4 separate regions of the Homo sapiens genome follow, and all the other regions are reported to be linked to region 4. Evidence: microRNA targets listed by miRTarBase, many of them from high-throughput screens and not tested one by one. Region 4 holds a microRNA gene; each other region holds the end of a gene's coding sequence.

Region 1 (3,078 bases), not on the chromosome of region 4:
CGATTCTCCAGCCTTAGCCTCCCAAGTAGCTGGGACTACAGGTGCCCGCTACCATGCCTGGCTAATTTTTTTTTTTGTATTTTTAGTAGAGACGGGGTTTCACCATGTTGGCCAGGCTGGTCACGAACTCCTGACCTCAGATAATCCACCTGCTTCTGCCTCCCAAAGTGCTGGGATTACAGGCGTGAGCCACCATGCCCGGCTGGGCTTGTATCTTTTAGCTTGTGTTAGTAAAAGGATTCTAGAAAATTATGAAGTCCAGATTCAAAGGGATCTCTGTTAATTACCCACTGACAGGCATTATGACCTAACAGGAGGTTGGTAGCAGTAGATCCAAGCATGCATGTTGCCTGGCCTGTAGATTGGCCTTATCAGGTTTCTGGGTGCCTCTGCCTTAAGATCCTGAAGGCAAATTTTGTTTCAACAGTTTGGAAGTCATCTGTGGGTCCAGCTTGACTTTGGAGGAATAAGAAGATACTTCTAGAGTATGGGAATGATTCCAGATAATTTCTGGGATTTGAATCTACTTGAGTTTAAGGGCCTGGGACCTAATTTGGTTTAGTATAGAATTTGAAGAATTAATTTATAGGCAGCTGAATACCCAAAACTTGGGTGGTGGTCCTGTGGTTTGGCTGAGCTGTCCGGGCATAACCTGGTTCTCTGTTATGTTAAGGCTTTCTGGGAAGCCAGCCACTCTGCGCAGGAGTGAAACATGAAGTTGTTTTCTGAGGACCTGTTTTGGTGGGATTGTTTGGGCAGAGGACTGTGTTTATGCAGGGCAAATCCCAGAAAGATAAGAGGAAGCTAGAGAAACTTAATGTACCTGAATTCTTCATGGTGTATTTGCAAACTAACTTAACATAGATTCTTTTGACTATGGTAAGTTTGAATCTCTCCTTGCCAAACAACATTATAAGTTTAGTTTTCTTCTTCCTCTTGCAGCCGGTACAGAAAGGTGTAAGTGGTGGCTGAAAATTGAGGAAGCTTCATCTGACCAATGTGGGTGCTGGTTTCTTGTGAAATGTGTCCCTAAGCCTCCTTCTCCTTGCAGGCAGCCACCCACCCAGGTGTCTAAGATAGGACATGCTCCTTTCTTTCTCTAATCCCATCCTGAGGTTGCCGGCAAAGCCAATATGACCACTACTGAGAAATAGTAATGACTTCTACAAATGCAAGGGTCTTACCCTCCTCTTTCCCTTAAACACCCTCCCTTTTCCTTAGACCCCGTTTTTGCCATCCCCCAAATGTGTGGTATGGTGAAACTAATCCCCTGAATGTGAATTGCTATCCTTATTGCCCTATTAAAGAAGAGCCAGCTGGTATATTGTCAGGAAGCACTATTTAAAATGTGAACTGTTATAGAGTAAATAAATAAATACTCTACAGGAATACACTTGTGTGCCATTCTCATTCGTCTTAGTCATCAAGGATGGTTTGTTTCCCCATATGGAAAAGAGAACGGGCAAGTAGATGGGTGGCATTCTTTTTTTTTTTTTTTTAAGTTCTAGGGTACATGTGCACAACGTGCAGATTTGTTACATATGTATACATGTGCCATGTTGGTGTGCTGCACCCATTAACTCGTCATTTACGTTAGTATATCTCCTAATGCTATCCCTCCCCCCTCCCCCCACCCCATGACAGGCCCGGTGTGTGATGTTCCCCACCCTGTGTCCAAGTGTTTTTATTGTTCAATTCCCACCTGTGAGTGAGAATATGCAGTGTTTGGTTTTCTATCCTTGCGATAGTTTGCTCAGAATGATGGTTTCCAGCTTCATCCATGTCCCTACAAAGGGCATAAACTCATCCTTCTTTATGGCTGCATAGTATTCCATGGTGTATATGTGCCACATTTTCTTAATCCAGTCTATCACTGATGGACATTTGGGTTGGTTCCAAGTCTTTGCTATTATAAATAGTGCCGTAATAAACATATGTGTGCATGTGTCTTTATAGCAGCATGATTTGTAATCCTTTGGGTATCTACCCAGTAATGGGATGGCTGGGTCAAATGGTATTTCTAGGTCTAGATTCTTGAGGAATCAGATGGGTGGCATTCTTTATGAAGGAAATAATAGGGTACATTTCTCAGAAGGGATGAAAAGGTGGGATCCAGAGAGGAGCCTATGCCCCCTTGTTCACTGGGAAGTCCCTGGTGTGACTGTCCAGAAGGGAACCACAGTCCAATCTGAATAGCCTTGGTGGGCTATTTCTAGAAGTGACCCTGACCCTGTGTGCTGTTGGCGCCTTCTCATGTTAAACCACTCTCCTAAGGGCTCCTGGGACAATATTTAATAACACTTTTACTGGGTACCTACTGTGTGGATGCAGGACACTGTCCCAGGCAGTGTGGAGGACTTCTGTGCTATATGACAAAGCACTCAGGGGCGCTTCTGTCTTCCCATCTGTGACTTCCAGAACAATTCGCGCGTACCATGGAAAGTTGAGCCACAGTCACACTACCGTTAATTTGCTCACCTCCATTTCTCCAATTTCCAGACCAATAACTAGATGTATCAGATCCTTAAGGTCGGGAAGTGTATTTTACTCTTCTTTTTATCTCCATGGTTTAGCCCAGAACCTGGCACAGAAACTATCAGTAAAGAAGGGAATTCTGGATGTGTGAGATGTGGGGTGGGTGAAACAAGATGGAGCTGTAGAGGAAAAGAGAGCAGTGGCACCCAGGAATCCCTTAGGACTTAAAGATAACCCTTATTCATAGCCTTATTCGTAGCCTCTAAAAACCATGCTCAAGAGACGGATGTTGGCTTAAGCACATGTTGATAATCAGCAGACGTGTAAGGTAGGGCTCAAGCCTACTCCCCAAACCCGCTTAACTCCTAACACTGCTCTTCCTCTACAGATGACCTAACTGCTTCTTTCAGCTCCTGGCTGGCCCCTCTTTGAAATCCCTTGTTCCGCAGCTCGGAGTAGAAGTCGACTCCCTCAGAGACAGAGTGGATGGGCTGATTATGATACTGGTGGTAGCTGGTCAAAGGACCCACGGTGGGGGCTGCACTTGACAGCCGCCGAGGGAAACACTGATGGTGATGTGGTAGGCAGTTCGGGTTTTCCTTG
Region 2 (3,083 bases), not on the chromosome of region 4:
AAAACAAGAAATAATGGACAATTTGGATTTTGGAAGTGGCTCTGCTCCAGAGCAGCTTCTGAAACACATTTAGTATCTCTTTACACTCTCTGAACCTCACTTTACTGATTTGTAAATCAAGAGAACTTGGCTTAAAAGTTTAGGGAAAAACACTCAAGTTCTAGAGAGAAAAGTGCCCAGAACTTAGAAAATGTAACGTATGTTCAGAGCTCAGCTACATCACCGACTAGTCGCGTGAGCTCTAGCATGTCATTTTCTTCTCCGAATCCCATTTTCTCCTCTATAAAGTGAAGAAGTTGATTACACCTACTCTCCAAGGTTGTTGGGAGGATTAAATTATATTCCAAAGACAAGTATTCCCAAACATGCGTTACACTGAAGAAAAAGTGATTCGTTTTATTGCTTGTTTACTTGCTTGTTGTTTTTGTTTTCCTTCAGCCACCAGAAGAGATTTATTCAATTGGAGATTCAGTTTTAATTCATTTCCACACTGATGACACAATCAACAAGAAGGGATTTCATATAAGATACAAAAGCATAAGATATCCAGATACCACACATACCAAAAAATAACACCAAAACCTCTGTCAGAACACAAAGGAATGTGCATAATGGAGAGAAGACATATTTTTTTTAAAACTGAAGATATTGGCACAAATGTTTTATACAAAGAGTTTGAACAAAAAATCCCTGTAAGACCAGAATTATCTTTGTACTAAAAGAGAAGTTTCCAGCAAAACCCTCATCAGCATTACAAGGATATTTGAACTCCATGCTTGATGGTATTAATAAAGCTGGTGAAAGGGCATCATATACTTCAAGGAAGACTCTACAAGCTTTTGTTCACAGCTTGAAATAGATGCCTCACAATTCAGACAGTTTAATTCAGGAACTGTGACCCTGCAGTGTTCTTTTTGACAATTTGTCAAGATTTAGGGACATAAAATGATCTTGCAGGTCGTAAACTGGAAAACAGTATTTTGGTTGTCTTAGGATAATTGCTGACTTTGTATCTTGGATACAGTGTAAACCAGATCCATATAAGGTGAATGTGAAATGGGAGTCTTCTGAGGGTGATTTGTACTTTCCATGTGTATGTGTGTGTCTGGTGTTTGGAAACTGGGATATTTCAGCTTCATTATTTCCACTTGCAGGCCAGCTTAACCTCTGAAACACAAATGATCTTGAGACCACTTTAGTGTACTTACATTTAGATGAGTTTGAAATCTCAATGGTGTCTAATTATTGCAGTTAAATTCTAGACATCAGTTCTTTAAGTCTCAGAAAACGCCCAGTGAATTGGTAAACTTAGTTCTTTTTTTTGGAAGTGCTGCCTTTTCACACCAAATCCAAGAAGCCTGTGATGTCTTATGAACCTTATGAGAAAACTCCGAAGAGGTGTGAGCAGGATTCTTCTGAATGACTGTCTGGATGGTTCATTACTCAAGTTACTGCTGCTGCTATTGTCTTTCCTTTGTTGTCGATCTGTTATTGTTGTATTATTATTGTTGATGTTGTCATGGTTAATCTATTTTTTAAAATTGAAATGAAGCAGAAGTAGGCCTTGTGAGAACTGAAAGGTCTCTTTCATTTTTCTCTTCCTGGGATTCATTTTTTCAAAACACAATGCTGGAAAAAAAAGATTTGTTTCTGAAAGACTTCTTATGGTGCTATTCCATAAACTTTTTTTCAAACAAGTTTTTGACCTTTGAGCCAACCCACCCGTAGACTACGAATGTCTCCCTATGGCTGGTAGCATTTGAAGACTAAAGACTTGTCAAATATATCAAGAGTATATCATTGCAAGGGCAGCACTTGTCCTGTGGAACAACTACTTATAATGCCTTAGAATTCCTGCACATGATCAAACAGATCCTCCTAAAACACACCTTTTGAAATGTTGAACATAATAGTGTATGTTAATTAACAGCTCTATGAAGAAAATCCATTTCCATGACTGAAGCATTGGATATAAATATGGTGTCCTGCTTTTTTTGTAGAAAATGTAATTTGAGGATGAATTTTCTGCTTTAAAGGCATGTGTGTTTTTAAAATTAATGAATGTAGATGTGTGATTGTCTGAGTGAGTGAAACTACAAGAGGTAAAAAATAATGGGTGGTTGAAAAGTTAAAATGTATGTGCCAAGTTCTACTAGAATTCCATTTGAAATAGCACCTTCCTTAGGTTTCATGGACAAATAATGGGAACTTCTAATTTTGATCAATCCCATTAAAAAAAGGCTCTTTCCTTTAGAGAAACTCTATTTTGATGTCAATATAGATTACTGTATGAAGTAGCTTTGTGTCTGTTACCTGTCCATGAGCATACAACATTGAATACAATTGGGTGTATTCTTTCAGTTTTACACAATTAAAGTATACACACAGATGTAGCTTATCTGTTTTTTTCTTAAATTGTTGCCCTGAAAAAATTTCTTGCATATGAATTGTAAAATGTAAATACATTTTTATAACCAATGTTTTGATCTTATTGAATGTTACTTTGAAAATGTATAACTATTGCCTGCAATGTAGATGAGCCTTTTAGTAGAGCTGATTTATTCCAGTAACTTCTTCCATATTTTCTCACTAATCTCCCGTTAGCCAAAATATGCCAGAAATGGGAAAGAGAGGAGAAAAAGTCATTAACATTAACACCTATACTGTTCTATACTACTCCTACCCGTGTGCTAGGAATGTGCACTAGCTCTTTTTAAATTCCATGCTACACTTTGAGGACTGTCATCATGTTCTCGTTTTGTAGTTCAGAAAGTGAGGCTCAAAGAATTTATGTAACCTTCCCAGAGTCACAGTGTAAAGTTAGATGTTGAAACCCAGTTTATCTTATACAAATGAGCCTCTGCTTGTTCTACAAAGGTAGTAGAATCAATCTCGACCTATATAAATAGTAGATTTTTTATGGTGAAACTTTCCCACATAAAGTAAATTTTAGGGGTGAATTAGAGTAAAACTTACAGGATAAGCATTTTGCTCTTTTTAAGAACAGCATGAAATTTAGAATACCAATGATAGCTATCTTTAAGAATCAGAATTAGTACTAGAAATTTAAAAAACCCTATAGT
Region 3 (3,083 bases), not on the chromosome of region 4:
ATTCAAAATTACTTTCTTCAGTCTAAAAACAACTTTCACAAAAGTATGTTACTAACCTAATGGAAAATTACAAGTATGTTCTATCCTAAGCATAACAGAAAAAAGGCTCCATGGGGGAGGAATTAATCACCAGTGTGCTGTGTCATTTTAGCATTCACTGCAACCAATTTCACTGAAAACAAAGCAACCCCGCCCAAACATTACAAAATACTCAATTGCTAATCAGCCCCCTGCAAAGGAAAACAGTTTGAAAAAGTAGTCATACAAGAGAGGAAAAAAATTGGTATTTTTTTGGGTAGTTGAAGAAACTAAGATGAGTCAACCAGCATAGCGAACAATAAAATAATAAACTCGAGTGATTAGAATAGGCTTTAAAATTAAGTTTACACATGCTGACAAGTGGTTTTTGTGACAAATGCTACTGTAACTTGTATTATACTGTGTCATTTCCAGATATACTGTATTCCCATTCTCAATAATTGTTTCATGGAAACAATTCACCACTTCATGCTGTTCTTTGAGCAAAACCAAGTGTGATTTATACATGGCAGAAAAAGTTCCTATGACCATCATATGATCAAATTCTAAGGTTATAGAAAAAAATAAGATTTCTAAGGATCAACACTTAAAAGCAATTTTCTATCAGTGAAAATGAGATATTTTGTATTATGCTGAAAATCGATTTTGGTATTAAAATATCACAGTTTGAAGCATAAATTTGATAACATTAGCTGGAACATAAACCTCAGATACAATTTTTCCCGACCTTAGCTACAAAACAAGACATTTGGTATACATTTTCAGAGGCTTCTACCTTGTCTATAAAAATACACCTTCAATTTTGCAGCAGGCAAACACATAATATTTGCAGGCATACACATTACTAAAGGTTAGAGATTTGGGGTGACTGAGTGGCACAGAGGTAATGGGGCACAGAGGAAGGTGGAAAAGTGTTTGTGCAAACAATTATAATCACATATAAAATAGTGTCTTCTTTTTCCTCTCTTTTTTAAACTGGTCAAGGACTGTGGATTTCAAATTAGGCATAAATTTTAAGAGTGGCTTAAAAAGGCTTGACCTTCTATGAAGAAATGATTGTTCACTTCACTGAGATGAATCTTGCCTAAAAGGTTTACTAAAAGCAGTAAGAGTAAGATGACAAAATATTACTGAGCCCTAGACACTTTTATTTTTAGCACTATGAATTACAAATAATGCCTACAAACAGGCATACATTTGCAGTTGAATTAATGTGATATAAAGCTTTCATTATACTGAATTTTCAAATTCTAGTTGTGTGGTGCTAGCAATCATTTTAATTGTGAAGAAAAATAGAGAAATATGGACCAAATAAATGTTACATATGTGCTGAATTTATAAACTAAAATACTTTTGTCTAAACACTTGTCTTTCCTCATTAATGTTTTATAAAGGATCATCAAAAACAGAATTGAGAATTTTTTTTCAATTATGAATCAGCTGCTATATACTCTTTAGCTACAGCTTCTCAAATAGTTCTCTCTCTTTCTCAAACTAGAATATCAGAACTGCAGAAAGGTGTTAGTGGCTTTCAAGAGGGTCTAGATACCTTCTGAAGATGTCTGAAATCTCAAAATACTCCTTAAAAGTCATAATTGTGTGTATTTTCAAAGGAAGAAAAGGCTAATAAATGCAGGATAGTGAGACTGTGAAATGTGTCAGATGTCAAATAGTTTTTTTGTGGGAAGGAGTAGACAACAAAATGGAAATTATTAAACGAAATGGAAAAATAAAGGTCATGGTTTCAGGTGCAATACAGAATATCTGAGATAATAATTTCAATTTTAGTCCACTTGTTACAAAGGGCAACCTTGCCCTACACCTGAAATTCTTAACATACTCATTATGGCCTTGCCATAAAACAGCATGTTAGCAGTTTCTACATTCAAAGGGATGCTTGCAAACTTCATTCATATTAAAATCTATGTAAAATTGTTGGCAATACAATAAGAGTAATGTTACATTATGTAAACCATGGCATACCACATTTTACATTATGCAAAGAGGCAATATTTACAAGTCTTTAGGAGTTTAAATATTTTATCCACTAACATAAGTGATAAAGCAAAGTGCAGGACAAAACCAGTGCCATTAATTGCATGTCCTTTAAAAGCATGTCCTTTAAAAGCAGAGTAAAACCATTTCTAAAAGCTACCAAAAGCTTATTTAAGTTTGTCCAGTAAGGGATTACAGAGCATCAAGTAGCCTAGAAAAATGATGCGAGTTTAGAAACAATGAGTATGAAAATTATAAGGCAGCATGCTCAGAACAAGTTTTTGTTTTTTAAACACCAACACTGATGATTTATCTTTAATGGCAACTATCTATATATGTATATGCACACACGCATGTGTGTGTATTTAAAATTGAGAGTGCAAAACACAAGCCTCATTGAAAGACAAAAAAGATGTGCAAATTTTCTTCATAAACCAACACAAAAGAGCGAGAAGAATATTCTACCATTATAAAGAATAAGTTGAACACAGCAAAGGAGACCATCTTCATTCCAAATCTACAAGGCACTAAGGGTAGGAAATGACAGGTAACACAGAAGTGACTGGATAAAACTCCTCAGTCAGGTCGGAATATGGGATATTTTGGTAAGAATTCTATTAGTATTACCTGCAAAATAAAAACAAGAATATATTTACAAAATATTTTTCATTTAATATAACTTATAAATAACCCAGAAAGTCTATAATCATTTTTCATAGGACAATATTTCAATCCTGAACCATATAAAGTAAGTGAAATACATGAAAAAAATATGTAAAGAACTTAAACCACAAGTTGTTATTAGATTGGCAATTTAAAAATTAAGCTGGCAAACAAAACTACTTATTGTAGCTAACAGATTTTACTATCTGATTTACAATAACTATTTGTCTAGGTTAACAGGAGCAAACTCCATTAAATTATATTATGTTTTTCCCCCACACCCCTATCTCTTTGTTAGCAAAGTAGAGATTAAAAAAATGCTATACAGATTAAAAAATGCCTTTATATTAGATTTATATATTTTTCAATTAAAGAAACTGATATTA
Region 4 (3,083 bases):
CTGCCTGTGCAACAGCAATGGCAGATTCCAATCCTCCAGGCTTTCCTAAACCACCACGGTGACCAGCCAGGGGGGAGGGGAAGGGAGGAACGGGCTTTCCTGCTTCCTTAAGACAGGGGCAATGAGCTTGACCTCCTGGCCCCTAGCCCTTTGAGGAGTGATTCCCCCCGGTCTGGAAGCCAGGTGTCCTGGACCCTAGCCCCCGAGCGGTGGGGGGGGCCTGGAGAGACGGGGAGGAGGAAGGAGGGAGTGACTTCCAAAATTGGCATCGGGACAGAGCAGGGCTGGCGGGAGGCAGGCAAAAGACGGAATTTTCCTGAAAAAACGGGGGTATCTGAGGACCCCAAATTTGGGGAGCTAGTCCAGGACCGTCCTCCCAACATCCTAGATTTTTTTGGGATTTTTTGGGGACCCCGGGACCCCTCTAGATGGGGTGAGGAATGTAGTGTTGGGTGAATCTGACTGGGGCATTGCAGCTGCCTCTCCCGCCGAGTTGGAGACGGATGGGCTGGGACGGGTTTTGGGGGGGTGTCCCCAATTCTGACTGGGAGTGGAGGAACCCCTCCTGAGATCTCTTGTGGGGGTGCCCCCTCCCCAGGGCACTCCCCAGTCCCTGAGCCAGCCGAGAGGAAGGAGGCCAGCGATGCGACTGGGGCGGCTCCTTTCTCCTGCACCCCAAATGTGAGGGATGCACCCTAAATTTTGCTCTTTTCAAAATAGGGGACCAGGATCTCAGGGGAGAGTAGCTGAGGTAAGTGGGGAGGGAAGTGTCCTCTGTTTTCAGGAGAGACGTGGCGGTTGGGGGGGAGGTTTGGAGGTGCGTGCTGGGGTGGGGTTGGCTTTGTCAGTCTTGGAATTGGGGGGATGATTGGAGAGGCTTTCTCTTATACCCCTAAACTGCAGCCCCCCAGACGGAAACCAAAGGCTGAGACCAGAGAGCCCCCCAACATCCCCAGCCGTTAGGATAGTGTTTAATTTCTCTTTCACCCCCCACAAAGGCTCTGCCGAGGTAGGAGCTGGGGGCAACTGTTAGTTTGGGGGCTATGGAGGGTGGTGGAGGAGCAGGAGGCCTTGGCAAGATTTGATGGAGGGCAGATAGGGGTGTCCGGGAGGGGTCTGGCATCTTCGGGGGCCTAAAAAGACTGCTTACATACACCACCTTGGATCTTTCAGATTGCTAAGAGTTTTGGGGGGTGTGTCGGAAGAGGGGGTGGTAAAAGATGCGATGGGATATAGGAAGATAACTTCTGGATTTTAGGGGGTCATATTTTGATTTGCAAAAGGAGTTTTGGCCCTTGGATTTTGCTTTCTGAGGGGTGTTTTTAAAAAATCAAGTCCTGGACAGGAGAAAAGGGCTGAGGGAAGGCCTGGAGTTGGGGGTGGGGAGAGGCATGTTTGTCTCAGCTTAAACGTGGCTCTCTGGGGTGGGCCCGCCTGCCCTGGCCTGGTGGATGGGCTGATGGAGGTTGCTGTGGGGGCCGGCTCGGGTCCTCAGGGGCCCTGGGGAGTGGGAACAGCACTGGGGGTTGAATACCTGGCCCCCCAGGTCCAGATGGCCCTCTTCCTGGGCTCTGCTGCTCCCCTTCCCCCTGGTCTCCATTTCCTGCCTTTGGCCTCCATCTTGTGGCAGGCCCAGGGCCCAGGGCGACTTCCGGCCCCCCTCTCCCAACCATGTTCCGGCCCCACCACCTCTGGACTGCCAACTCCCAACCCTGCTGGCCTTGGCCCTCTGTCTCTCCTTGCTTTTCTCTTGGGTTCTGACCCAGGGAGAGGAAGGACGGACACAGGAAGCCTTGGGTCCCTGCCCTTGCTGAGACAGGAGGCAGTGTGTTGGCCCCTCCAGTCATTCCCTATTTCTTCTGCCTCTGACCCCACCCTAGGGATCCCCTGAGCTGAGTTCCTACAGAGGGAAGATGGTCCAATCTTACTACACTGTGAGCTCATCCCCATGGTCCGTCGCCTTCCAGTTGCCTGCTCAGCCCGTCCCTGGTTCCTCCCAAACGTTTTTGGGGGCCATGTTTGCCTTTTAAGGCTTCTCTATCCCCCCGCTCCTGGAGGTGGTGCTGGGGTCTTCCCAGCACTGCTATGTGCTCTCTTCCTTTCAACCCACCCCGGTCCTGCTCCCGCCCCAGCAGCACACTGTGGTTTGTACGGCACTGTGGCCACGTCCAAACCACACTGTGGTGTTAGAGCGAGGGTGGGGGAGGCACCGCCGAGGCTTGGCCCTGGGAGGCCATCCTGGAGAAGTGACACAAAAAACATCTGGGGCCTTGTGACAAACTTCTTGCCAGGTGGGCAAGGAGAGGGTGGGGTATGTAAGCACCCCTCTAAAATCTCCAGGGCAGTTTCAAGAATACTGATGGCCAGAGACCCTGGGAGTAAGTTCTGCCTCAAGAGAACAAAGTGGAGTCTTTGTTGCCCACACCCAGCTTCCCTGGCTCTAGCAGCACAGAAATATTGGCACAGGGAAGCGAGTCTGCCAATATTGGCTGTGCTGCTCCAGGCAGGGTGGTGAAAACTACCGAGGAGGGGCTGAGCCCCCATGGGCCGAGGAGAGAAGAGGGAACAGGCCTCTCCTGCTAATAATGTTAAGCAGACAGCACGAAGCTGAGAGGGAAATCTTTATTGTTTTCTGTATAAAAATGTCCATCAGATGAAGGTCAAAGGGGTTGGGGGCAGATGCTTATGCGGGAATAGCGAGGTGGCAGCCCCAGCAGCCTTTCAGCCCTCTCTCGTGCAGGCCTTGCTCGGAGTCCCAGGAGATCCACAGGTCCGGCATGAACAGTGAGAGGTCAGAGGTGGAAGGCTCAGCAGGAGAGGAGAGGAGGATCAGCAGAGGTCATGAGAAGGCCAGAATCCAGGGTCAGGCTGTCTGGAACAGGAAGTAAAATGGGCCGAGATGGAGCGAGCCCCCAGTGTGCTTCCAAGGCCACTCCCACCTCCCTGAAACACCCTGCTACGTACTGATCCAATGCCCTGCGCTGTGTATGAGAGCACCTTCTCTTCTGAAACCCCTATACAAGGGAGGGGCCCCTGCGGAGACCGTGCCCTGCCATCCAGGTGAGCCCTTTCTCCCCAACCCC

The links. Region 4 holds the annotated microRNA hsa-miR-497-5p (CAGCAGCACACUGUGGUUUGU, at 2,130-2,150, shown strand). A microRNA usually pairs through its seed, bases 2 to 8, with sites in the 3' UTR of a target mRNA and lowers its output. Matches are read on the target gene's strand: a 7mer-m8 pairs with bases 2 to 8, a 7mer-A1 pairs with bases 2 to 7 and ends in A, and an 8mer does both.
Region 1: the mRNA of GSG1 is a reported target of hsa-miR-497-5p. Seed matches in the 3' UTR shown: 8mer at 1,954-1,961.
Region 2: miRTarBase lists TLL1 as a target of hsa-miR-497-5p. Seed matches in the 3' UTR shown: 7mer-m8 at 1,453-1,459 and 8mer at 1,456-1,463.
Region 3: the mRNA of CHIC1 is a reported target of hsa-miR-497-5p. The part of its 3' UTR that is shown has no 7-base or 8-base seed match.

Annotation. Positions count from the first base shown.
Region 1 is chr12:13,082,061-13,085,138 of GRCh38, forward strand. GSG1 (germ cell associated 1) reads right to left here. Exons shown (of 7, transcript NM_001080555.4): 7 at 1,472-3,078. The coding sequence ends at 2,841. FAM234B (family with sequence similarity 234 member B) reads left to right here. Exons shown (of 13, transcript NM_020853.2): 13 at 1-1,389. Among named protein-coding and RNA genes, the nearest start is that of GSG1, 20 kb to the right of the region's middle. RefSeq lists an enhancer at 2,544-3,078.
Region 2 is chr4:166,100,304-166,103,386 of GRCh38, forward strand. It overlaps TLL1 (tolloid like 1), which reads left to right. Exons shown (of 21, transcript NM_012464.5): 21 at 439-3,083. The coding sequence ends at 573. Among named protein-coding and RNA genes, the nearest start is that of TLL1, 230 kb to the left of the region's middle.
Region 3 is chrX:73,680,533-73,683,615 of GRCh38, reverse strand. CHIC1 (cysteine rich hydrophobic domain 1) reads right to left here. Exons shown (of 6, transcript NM_001039840.4): 6 at 1-2,661. The coding sequence ends at 2,611. Among named protein-coding and RNA genes, the nearest start is that of CHIC1, 120 kb to the right of the region's middle.
Region 4 is chr17:7,017,046-7,020,128 of GRCh38, reverse strand. MIR497 (microRNA 497) reads left to right here and starts at 2,107; the gene lies at 2,107-2,218. It overlaps BACC1 (BPTF associated chromatin complex component 1), which reads right to left. Exons shown (of 6, transcript NM_174893.4): 6 at 2,609-2,868. The coding sequence ends at 2,864. RNASEK-C17orf49 (RNASEK-C17orf49 readthrough) reads right to left here. Exons shown (of 8, transcript NR_037717.1): 8 at 2,605-2,868. It overlaps MIR497HG (mir-497-195 cluster host gene), which reads left to right and starts at 475. Exons shown (of 3, transcript NR_038310.1): 1 at 475-751; 2 at 2,741-3,060. It also overlaps MIR195. RefSeq lists enhancers at 1,401-1,570, 2,922-3,083.